Homo sapiens: one gene and its partners. The protein of the gene in region 1 purifies or fractionates together with the protein of each later gene. This does not show direct contact. Each region holds a gene or a part of one and is shown on either strand. Other genes may lie near its edges. The genes, in order: AKNAD1, AMY1C and GTF2IRD1.

The links.
Region 2: the proteins of AKNAD1 (region 1) and AMY1C purify together in Homo sapiens (affinity purification with mass spectrometry, with the first as the bait; one large-scale study listed by BioGRID). This does not show direct contact.
Region 3: the proteins of AKNAD1 (region 1) and GTF2IRD1 purify together in Homo sapiens (affinity purification with mass spectrometry; one large-scale study listed by BioGRID and IntAct). This does not show direct contact.

What each region holds. Positions count from the first base shown.
Region 1 is NC_000001.11:108,854,204-108,858,610, reverse strand, and holds the start of AKNAD1 (protein AKNAD1), read left to right. Parts: upstream 1-1,516; 5' UTR 1,517-1,682; intron 1,683-4,407.
Region 2 is NC_000001.11:103,756,011-103,759,308, forward strand, and holds the end of AMY1C (alpha-amylase 1C precursor), read left to right. Parts: intron 1-784; coding exon 785-903; intron 904-1,013; coding exon 1,014-1,139; intron 1,140-2,458; coding exon 2,459-2,648; 3' UTR 2,649-2,682; downstream 2,683-3,298. UniProt on the Homo sapiens protein: Calcium-binding enzyme that initiates starch digestion in the oral cavity.
Region 3 is NC_000007.14:74,512,831-74,516,480, forward strand, and holds part of GTF2IRD1 (general transcription factor II-I repeat domain-containing protein 1), read left to right. Parts: coding exon 1-141; intron 142-2,514; coding exon of another isoform or gene 2,515-2,610; coding exon 2,611-2,766; intron 2,767-3,650. UniProt on the Homo sapiens protein: May be a transcription regulator involved in cell-cycle progression and skeletal muscle differentiation. May repress GTF2I transcriptional functions, by preventing its nuclear residency, or by inhibiting its transcriptional activation.

The DNA of each region.
Region 1 (4,407 bases):
TACCCCACATTTCTGAGATAAAGTTAGCTGATAGAATTACCAGAGCATAATCAAATGCAGTCATTACAGAGGGAGCCTATATCATGTTACCTTTGAAAATATTTTAATCTAGAAACATCATACACTGTATACAAAATTCATGAATCCCTGACGCCTGGGCGTGGCCTTGGACATATTATTCTGAGCCATCTCCTATTTTCTTTCATATGTAAATGTTATTCTTGAGCTAGGAATAGGAGAGAAAGAGAAAATTGAAACAGCCAGACCAAGTGTTTTTGAATGCTCTTAAAAGACAAAAAAAAAAAAAAAGACAAAAGTTTGTATCACATCAGAAGTTCCCTACGTGCTCTTCAAAGCTGATTGCTTGCAGTTAAAAGAACCCAGAAGAAGCAGGCACGCCATGATTTTGAAGCTCCGTTTTTGTTCTGTTATTCAACTGCAGTCAACTTCCAACTGTTGAAAAAAAGATGATTTAGAATTAAAGGGTTGCTTGTCTGTGTCGCAAGGCCCTTCAACTTGTTCACCTGTGATATCCAGAGACTCCAAGATGTTGGTGAGTTTCTATTGCAATTGCCATATTGCCATGGTTTTGCCCTTTGTGTTGACTGTAGCATTGTGCTGTTTGAAGACAGAGCAGCATACTGCTTTGTGTAGTAAAAATTGATGGATAATGTACTTAAAGCTTTTAGATGTACACTATTCACATTCTAAATGACAGATACAAAAAGGAATAATCAGAATTTAGATTGTTGAATCATTGCCTCCAACAGCCAACTCTTACCGTGACAAAGTCAGTAGGGCTGATCTTAGAAGTGTAGGACTTGTGAGTGTTACGTGGTTGTACTAACTGGTACCTTAGTGGAGGGGCAGATAAGGTAAGTAGAAACAATGCCTGCTTTCTCCTCCATGTCTGGGTCCTACACATAGTCCCCAGTTTGCCTGGTTTGTAGAGGTTTAAACACAGAACAGAGGGTGTTGGGAATGAGACAAAGAGATTGTCACAGGAACATGGACCCACGGTTTTCCTTTGGTGATGAAAACAATCCTGTCAATATGGAAAACTGTGTTATCACAAAATGGGCTTAGCGAATAGAAGAAATGTCACCTACCAGCCGGAAACAACAATTCGCTGACCATCTTTGGCCTCTTGCCACTAAGGAGTTTTGGTTTTCCCATCTGTAGAAATTCTTAATTGAGTCCATCAGATTCCCAGTCATCCTAGCCATGGTTACCTTCTTCTCTAAGTTGGCAGGTTAGTGAGCTTAGGCTAGCACTTCAGCATCAAATTTAGACTTCATAATAAAGTAAATCACACAGGGAATAGCTGTCAGCATGGTGACCACCTTGTTGTCCATTCCTACTCAGGGACTGGCCTGAAGTGTTTTCACAGCCTGGGTCACTGTGATGTCCTGGCCCTGTTTGCTCAAAGTGTTCATCTCAGAGTGACTTGTGAGGTATTGCTGAGCACATAATGGTCAAGATAGCTGCATAAGCAGGCGTGGCCCCAAATGTAGTCACCTGACTTCAGAAAATCAATTTGGATTCTACAGAAAGGTTCTGTTGGATTCTGAGTGGAACCTCTTTGGATATGCCTTTGGATTTCAAGATTGAGCCAAGTGTTGACATGGGAAGATGCTCCAGTTCCTCCAGTTATCTCAAAGAAGCTCATTACCTTGCTAAGGGTATGGATTGTCCTTTTCCAGAAAAAATCCTCTTGATATTTTGCATGCACACATGCAAAAAATAATAACAACAGAAGCTGTTTTCCTGTATGTAATGAGAGTGTTCCTCAGGTTTCTGGTTTATCTTAATGGTATCTCACTCCTTTTCTTTTCCTTTCTTTCTTTCTTTGTCTGTGTGTGTGTTTGTGTGTGTGTGTTTATGTGTGTGTGAGAGAGAGAGAGAGAGACAGGGTCTTGCTCTGTCACCCAGGCTGGAGTGCAGTGGCATGATCTCTGCTCACTGCAGCCTTGACCTCCTGGGCTCAACTGATCCTCCATCTCAGCCTCCCAAGTTGCTGGGACTACAGGCATATACCACCACTGCTGGCTAATTTTTAATTTTTTTTTTCTTTGTAGAGACAGGGTCTTGCTTTGTTGCCCAAGCTGTTCTCAAACTCCTGTCCTCAAGGAATCCTTCTGTTTTGGCATCCCAAAGTGCTGAGATTACAGGCATGAGCCACTGTGCCTGGACTTTTTTTCTTTTTCTTGAGAGCCAGAGCAAAATTCAAATTTTATCAGTTTTAATTAATTATATTTTAAAAGTGGGAATTTGGCCAACAAAGTATCTTTCCTTTCTATACAAGAAGGGTATGGCGTTTGGCAATGAGCTCCTGAAAATGTAAAGAAAGCATGAGGATAACTTTGGGACTGATACTTGGGTCATTAAAAGTCTTGCAAAACTAGAATTTGTTTTCTTCTTCTTCCATTCTCTCTGTAGGCATTTAAACATACTCTCAGGCCAGGCACAGTGGCTCATGTCTGTAATCCCAGCACTTTGGGAGGCTGAGGCAGGTGGATTACTTGTGCTCAGGAGTTCGAGACCGTCCTGAATAACATGGTGAAACTCCATCTCTAAAAAAAAAATTAAAAATTAGTCAGGTGTGGTGGTGTGCGCCTGTAGTCCCAGCTACTCAGGAGGCTAAGGGAGGAAGATCAGTTGAGCCATGGTGTTGTCACTACACTCCAGCCTGGGTGATAGAGTGAGACCTTGTCTAAAAAAAAAAAAAAAAAGATACTCTGTTTTTTTTTGTTCTAAAAAATTAGACAATATTTTGTTTAAACTTGCTTAGTGATTTATTTATTTATTTATTATTTTTTATTTTTTTGAGACAGAGTCTTGCTGTTGCTCAGGCTGGAGTACAGCGGCATGATCTCGGCTCACTGCAACCTCTGCCTCCCGGGTTCAAGTGATTCTCCTGCCTCAGCCTCCCAAGTAGCTGGGACTATAGGGATGCACCACCATGCCCAACTAATTTTTGTATTTTTAGTAGAAATGGGTTTTGCCACATTGGCCAGGCTGGTCTTGAACTACTGAGCTCAAGTGATCCACCTGCCTCAGCCTCCCAAAGTGCTGGGATTACAGGCATGAGCCACCTCATCCAGCCTGATTTTTTTTTTTACCTTCAAATATATTTATTTACAGATTGAGTTTTAAAATTGTCTTAAAGTTCTTGTAGAGATTATGTCTTTTTTGTTTTGAGACGGAGTTTCACTCTATCGCCAGGCTGGAGTGCAGTGGCGCGATCTTGGCTCACTGCAACCTCTGCCTCCCGGGTTCAAGTGATTCTCCTGCCTCAGCCTCCTGACTAGCTGGGACTACAGGTGTGCGCCACCACGCCCAGCTAATTTTTTGTATTTTTAGTAGAGACGGGGTTTCACCATGTTGGCCAGGATGGCCTCCATCTCTTGACCTCGTGATCCACCTGCCTCGGCCGCCCAAAGTGCTGGGATTACAGGCATGAGCCACCTTGCTTGGACGAGATTATGTTTTACATATGCAATTCCTTCCTTTATCCTTTAAATATCCCCACGGATAAGGAGTGCCTCACCTCTGGACCTGGGCATTCTTCAGTATTCCAATACTGAGACTGGTTTTGTTTTTTCATTTTTCAACAACAATGTATGGAATTCTTACTCTGTGCCAAGCCCTATGCCGAGTACTTTAGTGCCTTATTTCAGGTATTGCTAGTCCTATTTCTCAGAAAAGGCAACCGAGACTCACAAGAGTTAAATAACTTGCCAGATGACACACAGCTAGAAAGCAGAGAAGCCAGAGTATTCAGATCCATGCCTCTCCACTTCTGCTTTCCCACTGTGCCTTTCACTTTCTTGGGAAGCCTTTTCCCTTGTTCTTCAACTTGGATTAGAATAGCCTGTAATTCTTCTCATGAAGACATGCCTCACTTTATACTAAATGTTACCCTCTTTAAATGATTTAAAATAATCCTGCAGTGATATTCTCCTTTCTCTCCACCTCTCTAAACAGAGCATCTGTTTAATTTGGGTTCTCTAACATTGGCATGTGTCTATAAATTAAGATTTTTGTACAATGTCTCACAGATGCTTTTACCACATTTAGTTTGTACTCCTTTTTTTCTTGGACGACTTAGTTCAAAAAAATTTATTTTGGTCAAACATATGATTTTAGCTTTTGAGGTTACCTAATAAATCACCAGCTTATAGACTCATAAAAATTTGGTTGGAGAGAGAACCTCAGAGATCTGCTCACCCAACATAATCATTGTATGGGCAAGGGAGGCTGCCAGCAGCTGTGGTCACCCTGGGCTGGTGCTCCAGGGGAGAGGGAATCTCAGTTACTCTACTTAAAACTTGAGATTACTACTTCTGAGGAATCATCCCAAAAGTTCACAAATCAGGAAGAGATATCTGAATGGGTGCTTTAAAT
Region 2 (3,298 bases), 5.1 Mb from region 1:
TTTAGCATATGTCATGTTCAAGGCATTTTCACATATATTACTTAATTTTTATAGCAAAAGAACTCATTATTCTCATTTTACAAATGAGGAAACTGAGACACAGAGAAATTATTTATATTGATTAAATTTTCTCAGCTACTAGTAATAGAGCCTATGTTTTAATCCTGGTGTTTCTAGTACTAATGCCCTTCCCATTTCAATGCCATTGCATGGCTTACAGTGATGTTAAGAAGCCCTTGCAGGCCAGGTGCAGTGGCTCACACCTATAATCCCAGCACTGTGTGCGGCCAGCTGAGAAGGTCAGCTGACCTGAGGAGTTCAAGACCTATCTGGGCAAGCTAGCAAGACCTTGCCTCTACTGAAAATTAAAAAAAAAAAAAAAATTAGCTGGGTGCGGTGGTGCACACCAACAGTCTTAGCTACTTGGGAGGCTGAGATGGGAGGTTCGCTTGAGCCTCGGAGATCAAGGCTGCAGTGAGCTACGATCATGCCACTGTACTCCAGCCTGGGTGACAGAGCAAAGAAGTCTTTGCAGTGCCTTGGAATGAAAAGGAGAGGATAACAATTTGCTACCTTTGTTTGAAATATGGCAAAAGAGAACCAGAGGATAGAGAGATGATGAAGACCCAGTAAAGGGCTATAAAAATCAATGAAGGCATTGGATTCTAGATAAAGTCACTGAATGCAGAGACACAAGTAACAGGATAGGTTGGGTTTGGTTTAAAGGAGAAGGAAGAGATAAATATATATATGCTAAAATTTGGCTTTTCCTCCTGTAATTAAGGATGTTAATGATTGGGTTGGGCCACCAAATGATAATGGAGTAACTAAAGAAGTTACTATTAATCCAGACACTACTTGTGGCAATGACTGGGTCTGTGAACATCGATGGCGCCAAATAAGGTGAGAATATGTATTTAGACATGTCCTCTAATAGTAAATTTCCGTAGCACTTTATTTAAAACAGTTGAAGTTTAAGAATATCAACGTTTTATATGGTATTGTGTTTTTAGGAACATGGTTAATTTCCGCAATGTAGTGGATGGCCAGCCTTTTACAAACTGGTATGATAATGGGAGCAACCAAGTGGCTTTTGGGAGAGGAAACAGAGGATTCATTGTTTTCAACAATGATGACTGGTAAGTAAATATCAATTAAAAATAATATTTTGTACCAGTATGTTCTTGGTTTATTCTTTTTTTTTTCTGTTCATTGACATTTATCATATCTGAAAAATCATGTAGTCAGTGGAGCGAGAAGACAATAGAGATCAAAATTGGGTAGAAGCAAAAGGATGATGGCTGTTACTCCTTCGTTCTCCTGTTTTCATAAGGGCTTTCTGTTGTAAGCAGAATCCTTTCTGTGCACCCTTGCAATATCTTATGCATATATAGAATGCACATTCATATGCTTACCTACACATGCCACAAAATACACAAAGTAATTAATAGAAGGATTGTGAAATCATTAAAAGAACGTTTCTTATAGTCCTGCTCTTTTAATCATGGAAAAATGCTGCCTCAGTACTAAAATATCTTTATTTCTCTTTTTCTCAATGACAGCTCTACCTAGTTTTTTGGTATACTTTCTTCACTTCTCTGTCTCCTTGTGACAAATAACATTTTTAAAGCATATGGATAAATAATATGTATCTTGTGGTTAATGATTTGCTTCAGGAGACTTGAGTTTTAGTTCTGAAACTTCTCATTATTGGCCTTTCATCTGTGATTTTTGTATCCTTTGGCTGTAGTATAAATGATTCCCGAAACTGTAGCTGAGAAGACCTCCTTGCAAACAGTTGAATTGTCTCTGTCCAAGGCCAACTGACACTCATACTTAGCTCACTCTAGTATAAATTATACTTCACTTATGAAAAATAAATAAATACAAAAATATATAAGTCAAGTTGATCTCTTTCCTGCCAAAAAAATGCGTGTCTATTTCCTTAGTTTCCTTCTTTTGTGGATGAAAATACCAAAAAAATCTTTTGTGAAAAAGCTTTATATTTCAAACTATCACTTCCTCATACAAATGCTAGATTGTTTTTATGTACACCCTAAATTCTTTTTGACCTCATGTAGAATAAAAGAAGGTTAAAAAAATAATACCCTTTAAATTTTTAAAGTAATTGGCATTAAGTTCAGTTGAGAAAAAATTTGATTTTACCAAGGTAGCACTTTATCAAAATGTGACCGCTCCCGCCAATCTTCGGTGATATTCTTCAACTTTGATTTTTCGGTTATATTTTCACTACTGAAAAGGAAATTGGTAGGTTTTCTGTAAGGTTACTTTTGGTCCTAGAAAGCTGTTTACACCTACTAGGGAGGCATATGGGTTTTCTTCTTAATGAGACTTCACTGCTTAGGGTTCTAAAACATAAAGTTATGCTGTTTATTTGTGTTAGTCTGTATTCTTGATTTCATTGTTTTGAAGTTAAATCTGAAATTTTATTTTACAGGACATTTTCTTTAACTTTGCAAACTGGTCTTCCTGCTGGCACATACTGTGATGTCATTTCTGGAGATAAAATTAATGGCAACTGCACAGGCATTAAAATCTACGTTTCTGATGATGGCAAAGCTCATTTTTCTATTAGTAACTCTGCTGAAGATCCATTTATTGCAATTCATGCTGAATCTAAATTGTAAAATTTAAAATTAAATGCAAATCCGCAAAGCAATAGCTAAGTGTGTTTCTTTTCTTACATATACAGTAATAGTTACATATCATTAATTTTAAATAAAAGCTCTAATTAGTAAAAAGAGGTTTAAGACACTTGATAGTATGAAATACAATTCCAGGTTACACATAAGTTATTTATTTTGGCAAAAGGATGACTCAAAAATTTTAAAACTAGGCAACAATCTTTACTCATTAAGAGGTAAGACTTAGCTTTCCAAACAGTTTGTCTCCTGTCTACTCTTTTCTCTCCTTGGCATTCTACCAACAAGGCAAACCAAATATTTCATTATTCTTCTCTATTACATGAAAAATCTGTACAAGGGAAGGAAAGCCAAATTTTACCCTTACATAGGTTTCAAAAGAATCCTTTTTCCATAGGCAACATTTACATTTTTATGCCTTTTTATAATCTTTTACCACAAACACATTTAAGTGTTCCTACACACCTTGCATGTAAATTTATTTTTAGTTGTCTTATTTACATATTTTTATGGTCAATCTTAGCAATTTTTAACTTTAATGTAAACCTGGTAAGTTGTTTTAATTATGTACTAGATGCAGATAAAGTCTGACTTTTTCCATTCTAGTTAGGGCATGGTTAATTTCATATGTCCCC
Region 3 (3,650 bases), on another chromosome or scaffold:
GCTCAGCGCTGTCCAAACTGAACGCCGAGGTGGCCTGTGTCGCCGTGCACGATGAGAGCGCCTTTGTGGTGGGCACAGAGAAGGGGAGAATGTTCCTGAATGCCCGGAAGGAGCTACAGTCAGACTTCCTCAGGTTCTGCCGTGAGTACCCCAGGGCTCCGGAGGGCCGGGCCCGCCATTTCCCGAGGGCAGGCGCTCTAGCCCATCTCTGGGTCCCCAACCCTGTCTAGCCAGGGTGGCGGTGTGTGGGGAGTGAACCTAACAAGCTAGGTTGTCTGAGATTCCCGATGTGGTGTTATTGAGGCAGCCCCTGAGTTGATAGAGACTGGCTGGGTGAACCCCAGGGTAGGCCAGAGCCAGCCACTTCCATCTGCCTTTTCCAGATGGGGACACCAAGGCCAAGGCTGCTGCTCAGTTCTTCCTCTTAACTATGTATTCCTGAACACAAGGACCAAATGCACTTATGCCAACACAATTTTTTTTTTCTTTAAATGAGACAGAGTCTTGCCCTGTCACCCAGGCTGGAGTGCAGTGGCACAATTTTGGCTCACTGCAACCTCTGCCTCCCAGGTTCAAGTGATTCTCCTGCCTCAGCTTCCCGAGCAGCTGGGATTACAGGCACCTACCACCACGCCCAACTAATTTTGTATTTTTAGTAGAGACGGGGTTTCACCTTGTTGGCCAGGCTGGTCTCGAACTCCTGACCTCAGGTGACCCGCCCACCTCAGCCTCCCAAAGTGCTGGGATTACAGATGTGAGCCGCCATGCCTGGCCATGTTCCAATAAGATTTATTGAATGCCTGCTGTACATAGCATCTTTTCTGATGCTAACTCACCTACCCTGACATCAACCTGAGGGGGCAGGCACTGTCATGGCTATAGTCAGGGTTAACATCTTAGGCCAGGTGCAGTGGCTCATGTCTGTAGTCCTAGCACTTCGGGAGGCTGAAATGGGAGGATCACTTGAGCCCAGGAGTTGGAGACCAGGCTGGGCAACATAGCAAGGCCTCTGTCTCTACAAAAAATTTAAAAATTAACCAGGCTTGATGGTGTACACCTGTAGTCCCAGCTGCTTGAGAGGCTGAGGCAGGAGGATCACTTGAGCCTGGGAGTTCAAGACTACAGTGAGCTACGATGGCACCCCTGCACTCCAGCCTGGGTGACAGTGAGTCCCCATCTCAAAAGAACCATGGTATAGCATGAGGTTAAGAGAACGGGCCGCCTGGGTCCACAACTGCTGTGCCTCAACCCACTCATCTGTGAAAGGGGAGGACGGGTGGGTCTGAGGGTTAAACGAATTGGTACCTTGCAAGCACTTAGGGCAGTGTCTGGCACTTGGTTCACACTCAATAGACACCAGCTGTTGTTACTATTATTAGTATTCACCTCACACCCCTAAGATCAGCTGTTTCAGGGAAGGGCATCCCCCAGCGCTGGGCCTAGCATTACTGGGGTGCAGCCGCATCCCCAGCCAGCCCCCCACCCCCCTCAGCCCTCAGAGCCTAGACCTTCTCCAGGGCCAGGATGGGGGACTGGGCCGGGTAGAATGGACAGCAGCAGGTCGTGTGGCACCCCAGCCGCCCAGAGCCTGAGGCGGTGCACCTGCCTTCTAGAGCCACGCAGAGCCGCTATTTATAGCACCAGGAACTCGGCTGGTTTATTTCAAGCTCCGCAGATCCCAGAGGAGAATAGGCTCCAAGCTGGGAGGGGGCCGCAGGCCCCTCCTCTCATCTCCTTTCCAATGCAGCTTCTAGAACATTCCCCAAGGATCCACCAACACTCTCCGGTCCCCACCCTGGCCCAGCCTGGCATGAACCTGCTGTTTGCAACCCACGGCCTCCTTGGAGCAGGGGTTGGGGGGTGCCTCCCAACCCTCTGCCGGAGGGTTTTCTCTCCCTCCGGCAGAGCAGAAAACGGTGGCATAGATTGGTCAAGACAGTGTTCGTGTCAGAGCACAGAAAGGCATGGATGGGGCCGGGCATGGTAGCTCACACCTGTAATCCCAGCACTTTGGTCAGGAGTTCGAGACCAGCCTGGCCAACATGGTGAGACCCCATCTCTACTAAAAATACAAAAATTAGCTGGGTAAGGTGGCAGGCGCCTATAATCCCAGCTACTCGGGAGGCTGAGGCAGGAGAATCACTTGAACCCTGGAGGTGGAGGTTGTAGTGAGCCAAGCTTGTGCCACTGCACTCCAGCCTGGGCAACAGAGCGAGACTCTGTCTCAAAAAAAAAAAAAAAAAAAAAAATAGAAAGACACAGATGGAACATTCATCGAACCTCAGTTCTGAGCTGGAATAGCTGGCCTCCCGTGAACATTCACAGACTGAGGCTCAGAGAGAGAAGGGACTAACCCAAGGTCACACAGCAAATTAGAGGTGACCAGAGGTGAGGCCCAGCCCTGGGAACTCTGAGATGACCAGCCCTGGCCCTCAGTGGGGTGGTTGGAATAGGGCTTGCTCACTCATTAATTCTTCATTCATTCATTCACTTGTGTATCACATTGTGTGCCAGTCTCCGCAGCTCAGCACAGGGCAGCGACATCCCAGCTCGAAGGCCGGGTGGTGAGACGGGTGCTCACTGTGGCCTCGCGTGCTCTGTGTCCCACAGGAGGGCCCCCGTGGAAGGATCCGGAGGCAGAGCACCCCAAGAAGGTGCAGCGGGGCGAGGGTGGAGGCCGTAGCCTCCCTCGGTCCTCCCTGGAACATGGCTCAGATGTGTACCTTCTGCGGAAGATGGTAGAGGAGGTGTTTGATGTTCTTTATAGTAAGATCCTTCCTCATTCCATTTGGGGGCCCCAGGGAGGGTGGGAGCCTCGGTCCCCACCCAGCAGAGGGGGCCCCCTCCTGTCCCACTATGGGCCCTGGGCAAAGCCGGACCCCAAGGCATGGGGCTACTGGCTACCCCAGCCCTTCCTCATCTCTGCATTCCCAGACACAGAAGTTCTGCTCCAGCCGTTTTCCAAACCTCCACCCCTACTGTCCCTGCCCTGGCTCAAGTCACTGCCACCTCTCGCCTAGAAATAGCCCCAGGCTTGCCACGGTCTCCCTGCTTCCAGACCAGCTCTCTACACCTGCCCTGCAACCAAGGGTATCTTCTCAAAGCACAAGTCTGATCATTAATGAAGCTCTTCTCTCCACAGCCTTCGGGGGCTCCCCATCACCCTGAGCATGGCACAGGGGCCCACACACCCATCCTCATCCCCTCCACACCTTCTTCTCCCACTAGGTGACAGGGCCCTACTGACCTCTCTACAGAACCACTTCCAGTTCTCCAGCACTCGCTGGTGCATTTCACATGCCCTGGACTTCGCGCTGTTACATCTTTTGAGACTGCCTTTCCCCTCCTGTGTCTGGCAGACACCTGCGTGGCACTGAGGCTCTGCTCCTGGAAGCCCCCTCACAGTGGGTTTAGGCCCCTCTCTTGGCACCCACAGTGCCCTGTCCCCTCTCCAGCCCAAGAGCTCTCCAGAGTCAGGGGCTGTGTCTGCCCTTTCTAGCTGTCTCCAGCCTACAGTTCAGAGCCCAGCAACAGCAGGTGCTTGGAGAATGTTTGTTGAATGACTAAGTGAAGGCTGATTGCTCAGCCATGTCTTTCCTGCAGGAAGAGGAGACCTGGCCTCCCTTGGGAAGCGTCAGGTTGCAGAGGGC